2 separate regions of the Homo sapiens genome follow, and region 2 is linked to region 1. The links come from fine-mapping of genetic effects on gene expression. Tissue or cell type: cerebellum. Region 1 holds a variant in brackets; the other region holds the start of a gene. All regions are shown on one strand. Distances are from middle to middle.

The links. PIP is the estimated chance that this variant, and not a neighbour inherited with it, causes the effect.
Region 2: KLB starts here. The variant in region 1 is fine-mapped to the expression of KLB in cerebellum (GTEx, PIP above 0.99). The same link has a PIP of 0.9 or more in cerebellar hemisphere, cerebral cortex, nucleus accumbens, prefrontal cortex and substantia nigra.

Annotation. Positions count from the first base shown.
Region 1 is chr4:39,451,117-39,456,291 of GRCh38, reverse strand. It overlaps KLB (klotho beta), which reads right to left. Exons shown (of 5, transcript NM_175737.4): 5 at 4,759-5,175. RPL9 (ribosomal protein L9) reads left to right here. Exons shown (of 8, transcript NM_000661.5): 6 at 1,348-1,428; 7 at 1,643-1,759; 8 at 2,067-2,168. The coding sequence ends at 1,749. Among named protein-coding and RNA genes, the nearest start is that of RPL9, 5.2 kb to the left of the region's middle. The variant C/T (reference allele first, on the strand shown) is at 2,170.
Region 2 is chr4:39,403,707-39,409,014 of GRCh38, reverse strand. It overlaps KLB (klotho beta), which reads right to left and starts at 2,085. Exons shown (of 5, transcript NM_175737.4): 1 at 1,241-2,085. The coding sequence starts at 2,065.

The DNA of each region.
Region 1 (5,175 bases):
AAAACCAGATTTGTTTTAGAATTATCTCTTGATTACACTTAAACTGTTGGTGCTACTTAAGGGTTTATATCATTATGTCGATTACAATTTCAGAAAGTTGATACATTGGAGTAGCTTGCAGTGGTGGTTGTATTTAACTTGGCAAATGAAATCTTTTAAAAAGACTTTAAATTTACAAAAGGTGTATATAATGGTGTGTATTTATGGAGCACAATGTGATGTTTCAACACATGCATATTCTGTGGAATGACTAAATCAGGCTAATTAACACATCCATCACTCCATTTATTTCTTCGTGGTAAGAACCTTTAAAATCTAAAGAGAAAACTACATGAGTAGTGGTTAATAGCCTAGCGTAAATTTCAGCTCTCACTGTCCACCTTGGGCATGTCATCTCTCTGCAGCTTAAAATTGCAAACATCTTTGATTAAATGAGTTAAAGTTGAAAAACAACAATGCATGCGTAATACATAGTAAACACAGTAGCTTTAAAAAAAATTTAAAGCTTAGTGCTTTTTATTTGAGGCAGGGTCTTGCTCTGTTGCCCAGGCTGGAGTACGGTGGCGTGATCTCAGCTCATTGCATCCTCCACCTTCGTGCTCAGGTGTTTCTCCCACCTCAGCCTCCCCACTAGCTGGCACTGCAGGTGCCTGCCACCACATCCAGCTGATTTTTGATTTTTTGTAGAGACTGTTTCGCCACGTTGCCCAGGCTGATTTCAAGGAATGCTATGGTGCCTGGCCCCAGCTAATTTTTAAGTTTTTTGTAGAGGCAGGGTCTTGCTATGTTGTCCAGGCTGGTCTTGAACTTGCAGGCTCAAGCAGTTCTTCCCCCTTGGCCTCTTAAAACATACCTGGCTCGGCCTCTTGATGCATTTTGATTCCATTGGGGTGGGGAGGGGTGGGAAGAAGGGAGATTCTTAGTATCAAAATAATGGCTGTCCAGAAATACTCTGATACTAGCTATGGTCAGCAACATTTAATGAAAACCCTTATGTTAAAAATAAACCCCTGCCTCCTGGCTTCAAGCGATTCTCCTGCCTCAGCCTCCTGAGTAGCTGGGAGTATAGGCACGTACCACCACACCCAGCTAATTTTTTGTATTTTTACTAGAGATGGGTTTCACAGTGTTAGCCAGGATGGTTTCGATCTCCTGACCTCATGATCCGCCCGCCTCGGCCTCCCAAAGTGCTGAGATTACAGGCGTGAGCCACTGTGCCCGGCCTCAAAATCTTAAGAAAAGGTTCTTTTGGTGCATGGAGTTTTACATGGAATAAATTAGTGCCTCTGCAATTTAAATATTTTTTACACAGATTTGATGCTGTGCAAATGCCCTCTCCCCTTTTAGGTGTTGCTTGTTCAGTATCTCAAGCCCAGAAAGATGAATTAATCCTTGAAGGAAATGACATTGAGCTTGTTTCAAATTCAGGTTTGTATGTTTACTATGTCTAACTATGCCTACAAGATTTTGTCTAAATCTTGTTTAAAATACAGTATTTTGCTAATTTTTATTTGATTAGCTTTTTAAATTGTGAAAATAAAAAGGTCACATTCTGAAATTTTAAGTACAGCACATAATGAAATACTTTCTTTTTAAGATGGGTTAGGCTGATGTATTAATTGCTTTATCTTCACTCCTATAGCGGCTTTGATTCAGCAAGCCACAACAGTTAAAAACAAGGATATCAGGAAATTTTTGGATGGTATCTATGTCTCTGAAAAAGGAACTGTTCAGCAGGCTGATGAATAAGATCTAAGAGGTAAGTTCTTACAGTGTCTTAAGTTTTATTACTGCTCTAGTTGAATGAAGCTCTTAATTTACTAAAAGACTTAAACTGAATTTGTAGTAATAGAAAATGGAGAGTTAAGCATTCTGGAACACAGTAAATTTGACAGAATAAAAGATGGAATTGGCATGCATTTTACTACGTATAGTTTACTATGAATCAGTAAGTCATAGTCTTGAGGTATGTTTTAGATTATTTAGAATAGTACAGAAAAAAGATTAGTACTTTCCTGGGCAAGTGTATTGATGGGGATTTACAGATTTTTTTTCTTTTTTTACAGTTACCTGGCTACAGAAAGAAGATGCCAGATGACACTTAAGACCTACTTGTGATATTTAAATGATGCAATAAAAGACCTATTGATTTGGACCTTCTTCTTAAAC[C/T]GGTTATCCTTTTTAGCTAGTTTTTTTCCCTCGTGGAACAAGGAGCTTTAATCTGGTTCTTGAAGGAATAGCAAGGATATATTTTAGGCAAGAGGAATATTGTACCAGTGACAGGCAAACATGAGGCCATTCATCATTGCATATAGAACTTTAGGAATACCCTGAAAGTGTCTAAATTTGCTGAGGCATGAATTTGAATATTTGGTAAGGCAAATGTTGTCTTAGTCACTGGTGGAGAAACAGCTGAGGAGTAGAACAGAGTGATACAGCATCAGTTAGAATTAGAAGGTGTAGTTGGTTTGGTTCATGGTCTCAATAATCTTGTCCTTTACCTCAGCCATTTACTTCCATACCCTAGAACTTGTTTTTAAAAATTGATAACCCTTCCATAATCTCTTAATTCCATGTGTTATACTTTAAATATGGTACAAGGCCACCATAACTAGACTTAGGTCAACATGGTGACCCCCAAACCTTTGTGAATTCTACATCTCATTTGATGGAAACTGCAATTTCTAAGGCAAAATTTAACATTCATCCTTGATCAAATGCGTCAGGAAAACGTACTAAGTACCTTCATTGTAAGGTATGGTCAGGTACTTTATCAGAAAAAGTAAATATAAGGACAGAGGTCACGATCAGTTGGCATATATGTTATCTTGGATCTTACAATGTCTTACTCAGTTGCCCAGGCTGGAATACAGTGCCATAGTCATAGCTCTGTAACTTCAACCTACTGGACTCAAGCAATAATCCTACCTGCTTCAGCCTCCTTAGTAGCAAGGACTACAGGCAGGCACCGTCACATCTTTTTTTTTTTTTTTTTAAAGTATGGATGGGGTCTCATGTTTCCCAGGCTGGTCTTGAACTCCTGGCCTTAAGTGTTCCTCTTTGGCCTCCCAGAGGGCTGGAACTACAGGCATGGGTCACCATGCCCTATACGTCTTAGATCTGGATTCAAGTACACTAATTGAACATACATTAAGGAGTCTTGTTGTTTGATGACTATTTGGTTAGGTTTTTAAGAAATTTGGAGGAAATCATAAATCTCGGATTTGCTCAGAAATAACGGATGGGGTTGTAGGCGATGAATGGGATCAACGTGAAGTAAGATCACATCCTCGAAAGGTTGGGAAATATGGGTCCATTAGATACAAATTTTTTACAATGTAGAAAATGAAACAAAGACCTGCGAAGTTCACCTGGATTATTGTGACAGTCAACTGGTCATCTTCCTCTCCTGTCTATTTTCAGCATCAGCCAGGGTACTGATTTTGAAATGGATTATAGCACTGTTTCAAATCCTGCAACAGGTTTTTTTTCCCTTTTTTCTTTTTAAAATAGCCTCCCCATTGTACCTGCAGCCGTTTTTAACTCAATTTTTCTGACTTCTGCGCTATAGCTGAATTGACCTGGCTAATCCTCTATACCAAGCACTCTGTCATTAAGCATTTAAGTTGTCGTTTTCCCTTTGGAATGCTCTCAGCTGAGCTGTGTGGCTAATTTCACTTACCTTCAGGTCTATTCAGTGAATCCTGCCTTGACCACCGTATTAAAAATAGTAGACCGGCTCCTTAAGCTTGTCCTACTGTCTCGTTACCCTTCTCCACTTGTTTTTGTCAATAGCATTTGTAATTTTAATATTTACAATTGGTTGTGTATTGATGATGTGTTTTTTTCTGCTAGGATGTAACCTTCACAAGGAGGTAATTTTGTACTCTGGTGTATTCCAGCTACCAGAACAATGGCATGTAGCTGTTTCCTGGATTGCCAAGGAACTCAGTAATAGCAGTGGGACTGGAAGAGAGAGATTTTGGGAAGGTATTGACAGGATTTCAAAACAGTATGAGGCTTGTGGGAGAAATTTCCAAGTGGCAATATTCTAGTGGGGTGGAGATGCTCATGAGAGGATCAGCTTATGGGGAGTAGCTGCTGTGGGAGTAAATGAGATTTCTTTGAGCATGAAATGGACTGGCATGCTGGGTCTGACCTTCATAAGGTAACTTAAGAGACTGTAGCTAAACAGTGATTTTTTTTTTTTAATAACTTGGGTATAACAAATGAGCCTAGTTCTCCAGGGAAAACTTAATTATTGTCTTCTGTGTCTACTATGGATAAGCACTTGTGCACTATTTTTGCAATTTTTAGATGTAGGTGTCCACATATTTTTGAGACGGGGTCTCTGTCACCCAGGTTGGAGTGCAGTGGCGTGATCTTGGTTCACTGCAACCTCTGTCTCCCAGGCTCAAGCAGTCCTCCCACCTCAGCCTTCTGTGTAGCTGGGACCACAAATACGTGCCACCATGCCTGGCTAGTTTTTTGTAGAGAGGGTTTTGCCACGTTGCCCAAGCTGGTCTCAAACTCCTGGAATCAAGCAATCCGCCCACCTTGGCCTCCCGAAGTGCTGGGGTTACAGGTGTGAGCCACCACACCTGAGCCACATTTTTTGAGAAAATATACCCAGAAGTAACATACCAAGTTGGTGCACAACTAGGCAGAAAGGGATTCAGGGGAGGCAGTCTTGGGGCAGAGCCCATTTACAATGCCAAACCCATTCACATTCAACAGTTCTTAAAATTGACCAGGTTGTTAGTTGAATACAAGTGGTCAGCATGAACCAGTTTATTTGGAATAAATTACATTGAAAATTAAACATGTAGTCACACTGTACTGGCCTCATTTTCCAGAGGCTCTTTAAATATAGTTGTGATTCTCCAGGTTGTTACATTGAATATACGATAAACACGTTAGATTTTTCACAACACATCTCAGAAAAGCTTAAACTCCAAAGATCTTACCTGTTTGCTCCTTTCAAGAGTTATCAGTTTCTGGTTGACCTTTGATGGTTTTTAAGGAGTTTATGATAAACCTGAATATTTAGTATGATAGAGCATGAGCCAGATTAAATGCTTAACCTAATTTGCTGTACATATTTGCCAGTGGTTAAAAAATTTAAGGGTTTTTGGATTCTTGTGCGATGATGGCTTAAAAACTAGTAAAATAATG
Region 2 (5,308 bases), 47 kb after region 1:
GATAGCAGATATTTTTGTATGTACAAATTTAGACATGGAATTATTTTATGTTGCTGTATTTTTTTTCTACTTCTGTATATTTAGCTTTTGATTATTAATAATTAAATTACTTTTTGTAGCACATTATAAAATTATATTGATAAAGTTTTTTCATTTTTAAAATGTAACAGGTGTGCAGAATAATTTATTTTTCCTAAGTAAACTATTTGACTCAAAAAGTTAAATTCGATTCTAGATATTAGCCTCAATGTGAGGCTAAATCTCTTGCAAATTCCTGAGTCTTCTTTTCAAAGCATTCTTAATGAAGACAGTTAGTGTTAATTATGTTGTCATTTAAAAAATCCATGTCCACAACAGCTGTATTTTACTCCTTAACCTTGGGAAAATTATTTAATCTCATTAAGCTTCAGTTTCCTCATCTTTTAAATGGGAAGAATAATAAAACTAGTTCAAAAGGCTGTTAAGAGGATCAACTGTAACGATGCATGTAAAATACTTAATGTAGTCTGTGGTACATAATAAGTACTCAGTAATTATTACCTATTATTTTGCTTGTATTTTCACTATTGTTTTACTAATTTTAACATTTCTCAACATTATCTCTAGCTTTTGAAATATATTGCTTGAAAATTGCTTTAGTAGAGCACATTCTTCCCAGTTCTTATGGGAAGAAATGTGTTTAGCTCCCATAACAATTAATCTTCTCTTTTTTGCTATGTAACACAAATAAAATCAAAAGTGAAGTATATTTAAATTTCTGTATTTAATATGCATGAGTTAGCTAACATTTATTTGGCTTACTTATTTACTTACTTTATTTACTTATTAGCTAAGTTAGCTATACTTAACAACAAATACATATTTGAAATGGTTGTGCCTTAAGATAATTCTGAAATGATTGCATGTTGTCAGAAAAGGGTTCCAACAATTAAATTTATGAAGCACTGTTTTCCCACAGAATGAAAGTAAGCTCATATATTCACACTGTAGTGTATAATGGTAGATTTAAAAATAGCCTCAAAGTGCAACTTTTGAAAAAACTAATTGGATTAATACATTAAAAATACCTTAGATAAATAAAACATACACTAACTTAAATGCAAAATTTGAGGATAGATCTTTTGAATTAGCTTAAAATCAGTTGCCTTGATTTCAGTGAAGAGAATTACTGAGGCAGAAGGTAAATTCTTAAATTCTTAGTGTTTTCTGAAGCTATAAGAAGAAGCTAGCTGTACAGTACCTTGATCAAGTTGTGTCCCACAGTGTAGACAGCTGCTAAATTTCCCTTCTCTCCAGGGGCATGCATACCTGTCCCATACCCATGCCAAGCCACTAGATATGGGTTGTGAATTGTAATCCAATATTTGACACGGTCCCCAAACATCTGGAAACAGTATGTGGCATAGTCATTGAAGATATCTATTATGGTATCATTTTTCCACCCCCCATATTTTTCTTGTAGTGCCAAAGGCAAATCCCAGTGGTATAAAGTAACTATAGGTTCAATGTTTCTAAGCACTAGAGCGTCCAGAAGAGTACTGTAGTACTGCAGACCTTTTGCGTTGGCAACTGTTACTATTCCATCGGGGAAAAGCCTTGGCCAGGAAATTGAAAATTGATAAAAAGAAACTCCTATAAAATCCAGGGCTGATAAGTCTTTTTCCAGAAAAATATAACTGTCACTGGAACCATTCGTGCTGCTGACATTTTTAAGGTGTGTGTGGATGAAATGATCCCATATAGAAGGTCCTTTTCCATCCTTCTTCCAACTCCCTTCCACTTGCAATGCTCCAGTCCCAATACCCCAGAAAAAGTTTTTAGGGAAAGTGTCATAGAGAAACAGCTGACTTTCATTTACCGGAGTAAAATTAGGATTTTTAGACCATATAGCTCTTCCATCTCCAGAGAATCCAGTAACAGCTCGTAGCAGAATAAGTGCTGACAGGATGACAGATCTTTGCAATCCCCCGTTGGACATTGTATTCCTATAGCGTGTGGTTATTTCATCAGTGCTGAAGAAAATCCATTCATTCCCTGGAGATCCTGCCGCACAGCCTGGCTTCATTTGCCACCAACTGCTGGACTGTCTTATCAAAGCTTCAGTAAAAGCTTGTGATTGTAAAGCTCTGTCAATGATTAGCTTGAACTGGGAGACTGAGGATGGGTCATAGAGAGCAACGTAATTTGAGGGAGGTGGCCCTATTGCAGTCACCAACGCGTCTCCTTCTCTCTCATTATGGAAAAAATTAGATGAAAATGCATCGGTGACAAGAGTTTGAATGTGTAACTAACACATATGTAAACACTGGATTAAAATCACATTATTTTCCGTGTAGCCTTTCATATTGACCCAAATCTTTTCTGAATGTTTTGAACATTATTGAATAAGGTATATAGCTTTTCTATTTTTAGAGTTTTTGTGTGGTAATTTTATAATCTCATATATCAAGAAAAATAACATATACAAGTATATAGCATTCCTACATACCAATAGTAAAGAATTAGAAAACACAATAAGAAATTACACTTCTCCACAAAATTATAACGCATCTAAGAACAATCTTAATAAATGTTACCTATTTTAGGAAAATTGCAAAAATGTATTGGTAGATTTGAGAGAAGACTTGAATGAGAAAATATAGCACTTTGTGGATGGAAAAATGAAATACTTTTCAATTTAATACATTTAACTTAACTAAAATCCTCTAATCTCTAATTTTATTTTTTATTTTATTTATTTAACTTAACTAAAATTCTCTAATCTCTAATTTTTTAATTAATTAATTAATTTTTAATAAGAGTCTTGCTTTGTAGCCTAGGCTGGAGTGCAGTGGTGTCATCACAGCTCACCGCAGCCTCAACTTCCCAGGCTTAAGCAATCCTCCCTCCTCAGCCTCCAAGTAGCTGGGACAACAGGCACATGCCACCATGCCCAGCTGATTTTTGATTTTTTGGTAGAGGTGGGGTCTAGCTATGTCCCCCAGGCTGGTCCTGAACTCCTGGGCTCAAACAGCCCTTCTGCCTCGGCCTCCTAAAGTGCTTGGGATTATAGGTGTGAGCCACCATGCCTGGCCTAATCCCAAATTTTAGTTCAAGAAAATTATTACGAAAGGCCAGGCACAGTGATTCATGGCTATAATCCCACCACTTTGGGAGGCCAAGGCAGGCAGATCACTTGGGGTCAGGAGTTTGAGACCAGCCTAGCCAACATGTTGAAACCCCGTCTCTATTAAAAATACAATTAGCTGGGCACGGTGGTGGGCACCTGTAATCCCAGCTACCTGGGAGGCTGAGGCAGGAGAATCTCTTGAACCTGGGACGTGGAGGTTGTAGTGAGCTGAGATCGCACCACCGCACTCCAGCCTGGGCAACAGAGCAAGACTCGGTCTCAAAATAAAAAAAAAAAAAAAAAGAGAAAATTATTATGAAAGTTCCCTTGAAGAATAGGCAATATTTATTTTTAAAAAGGAAAGAAAAACCTGAAAAAGAAAATAGCAAAGGCATAGACTACCTTCAGCATGATTCTGGAATAAAGATAAACATACAGAAAGAAATACATGCACATACAGAAAGAAATATTGTACCAAATCGATAGCCTCCAAATAACCTGTAAAAAATTTAATGTTTTACAGCCTGGGGAACATAATAAGGCCCCATCTCTACAAAAAAAATTAAAAACTAACCGGGTGTGGTTGTGCATGCCTGTAGTCCCAGCACTTTAGAAGGCCAAGGTGGGAGGATTGCTTTGAGCCCAAGAGGTCAAGACTGTAGTGAGCCATGATTGCACCACTGCACTCCAGCCTGGGTGACAGAATGAGACTCTGTCTCAAAAAATAATAAATAAATAAATAAATAAATGTTTTAAATATTTGAAGTATCACATATGAATGAGAAGCAGAGTGGTTAATAGTTTGGTCTCTGTGCCAGATGAGGTGGCTCACACCTATAATCCCAGCTACTTAGGAGGCTAAGTGGGGAGGACTGCTTGAGGCCAGGAGTTTTGAGACCAGCCTGGGCAATATAGTGAGACTATCCTCACCTCTAAAAAAAGATGATTGAGGCCCGGCACAGTGGTTCGCACCTGTAATCCCAGCACTTTGGGAGTCCGAGGCGGCTGGATCACCTGAGATCAGGAGTTCGAGACCAGCCTGACCAACATGGTGAAACCCCATCTCTACTAAAAATACAAAATTAGCTGGGCATGGTGGCACATGCCTGTAATCCCAGTTACTCGGGAGGCTGAGGCAGAAGAATTGCCTGATCCCGGGAGGTGGAGGTTGCAGTGAGCCGAGATCGCGCCATTGCACTCCAGCCTAGGCAACAAGAGCAAAACTCTGTCTAAAAAAAAAAAAAAAAAAAAAAAAAAAAAAAAAAAAAAAAGAGAGATTGAGCCTCTAGAGGCAGACTGCCTGAGTTTAAATATAGCTGTGTAACTTGCCCTCAGTTTCCTCTTTAAGAAAAGGCATAATAATAATATGCACTTCATGGATTATTGTGAGAATTAAACGAGTTAATACACTGAACCAAATGGTTTTCTCTGGAATATAGAAACGAATGAGCCAGTACATGTAAGGCACTTGGAACAGAGACTGACACATAGTAAGTTATGTGCTAATATTATTTTTGTGTGAAAGGGAAAGATTATTCAGGACATGATGCCAGGATTTAGCATAAAAGACAATTTGTTCTGGCTCCTGCCCACATTTTTAGCTTCACTTCTCTCAGTTGACTAAGGGGTACACAGCCTGCTAACTTGTAGCCCTGTACCTTGGTATGTGTGCTCTCTGCACAGAGTATGTTTCTCCCTTCATCTAGCTCATGTCTATCTTTTTTTTTTTTTTTTTTTGAGACGGAGTCTCACTCTGTCTGCCAGGCTGGAGTGCAGTGGCGGGATCTCGGCTCACTGCAAGCTCCGCCTCCCAGGTTCACTCCATTCTCCTGCCTCAGCCTCCTGAGTAGCTGGGACTACCGGCGCCCGCCACCACGCCTGGCTAGTTTTTTGTATTTTTAGTAGAGACGGGGTTTCACCGTGTTAGCCAGGATGGTCTCGATCTCCTAACCTCGTGATCCGACCGTCTCGGCCTCCCAAAGTGCTGGGATTACAGGCGTGAGCCACAGCGCCCGGCCGTCTTTTTTTTTTTTTTTTTTTTTTTAACTTTTAAGTTCAGGGACACGTGCAAGTTTGTTACATACGTAAACTTGTGTTATGGGTGTTTGCTGTATGGATTATTTCAGCAGGCAGGTATTAAGCCTAGTACTCATTAGTTTTTTTTTCCTGATCCTCTCCTTCTTCCGACCCTCCACCCTC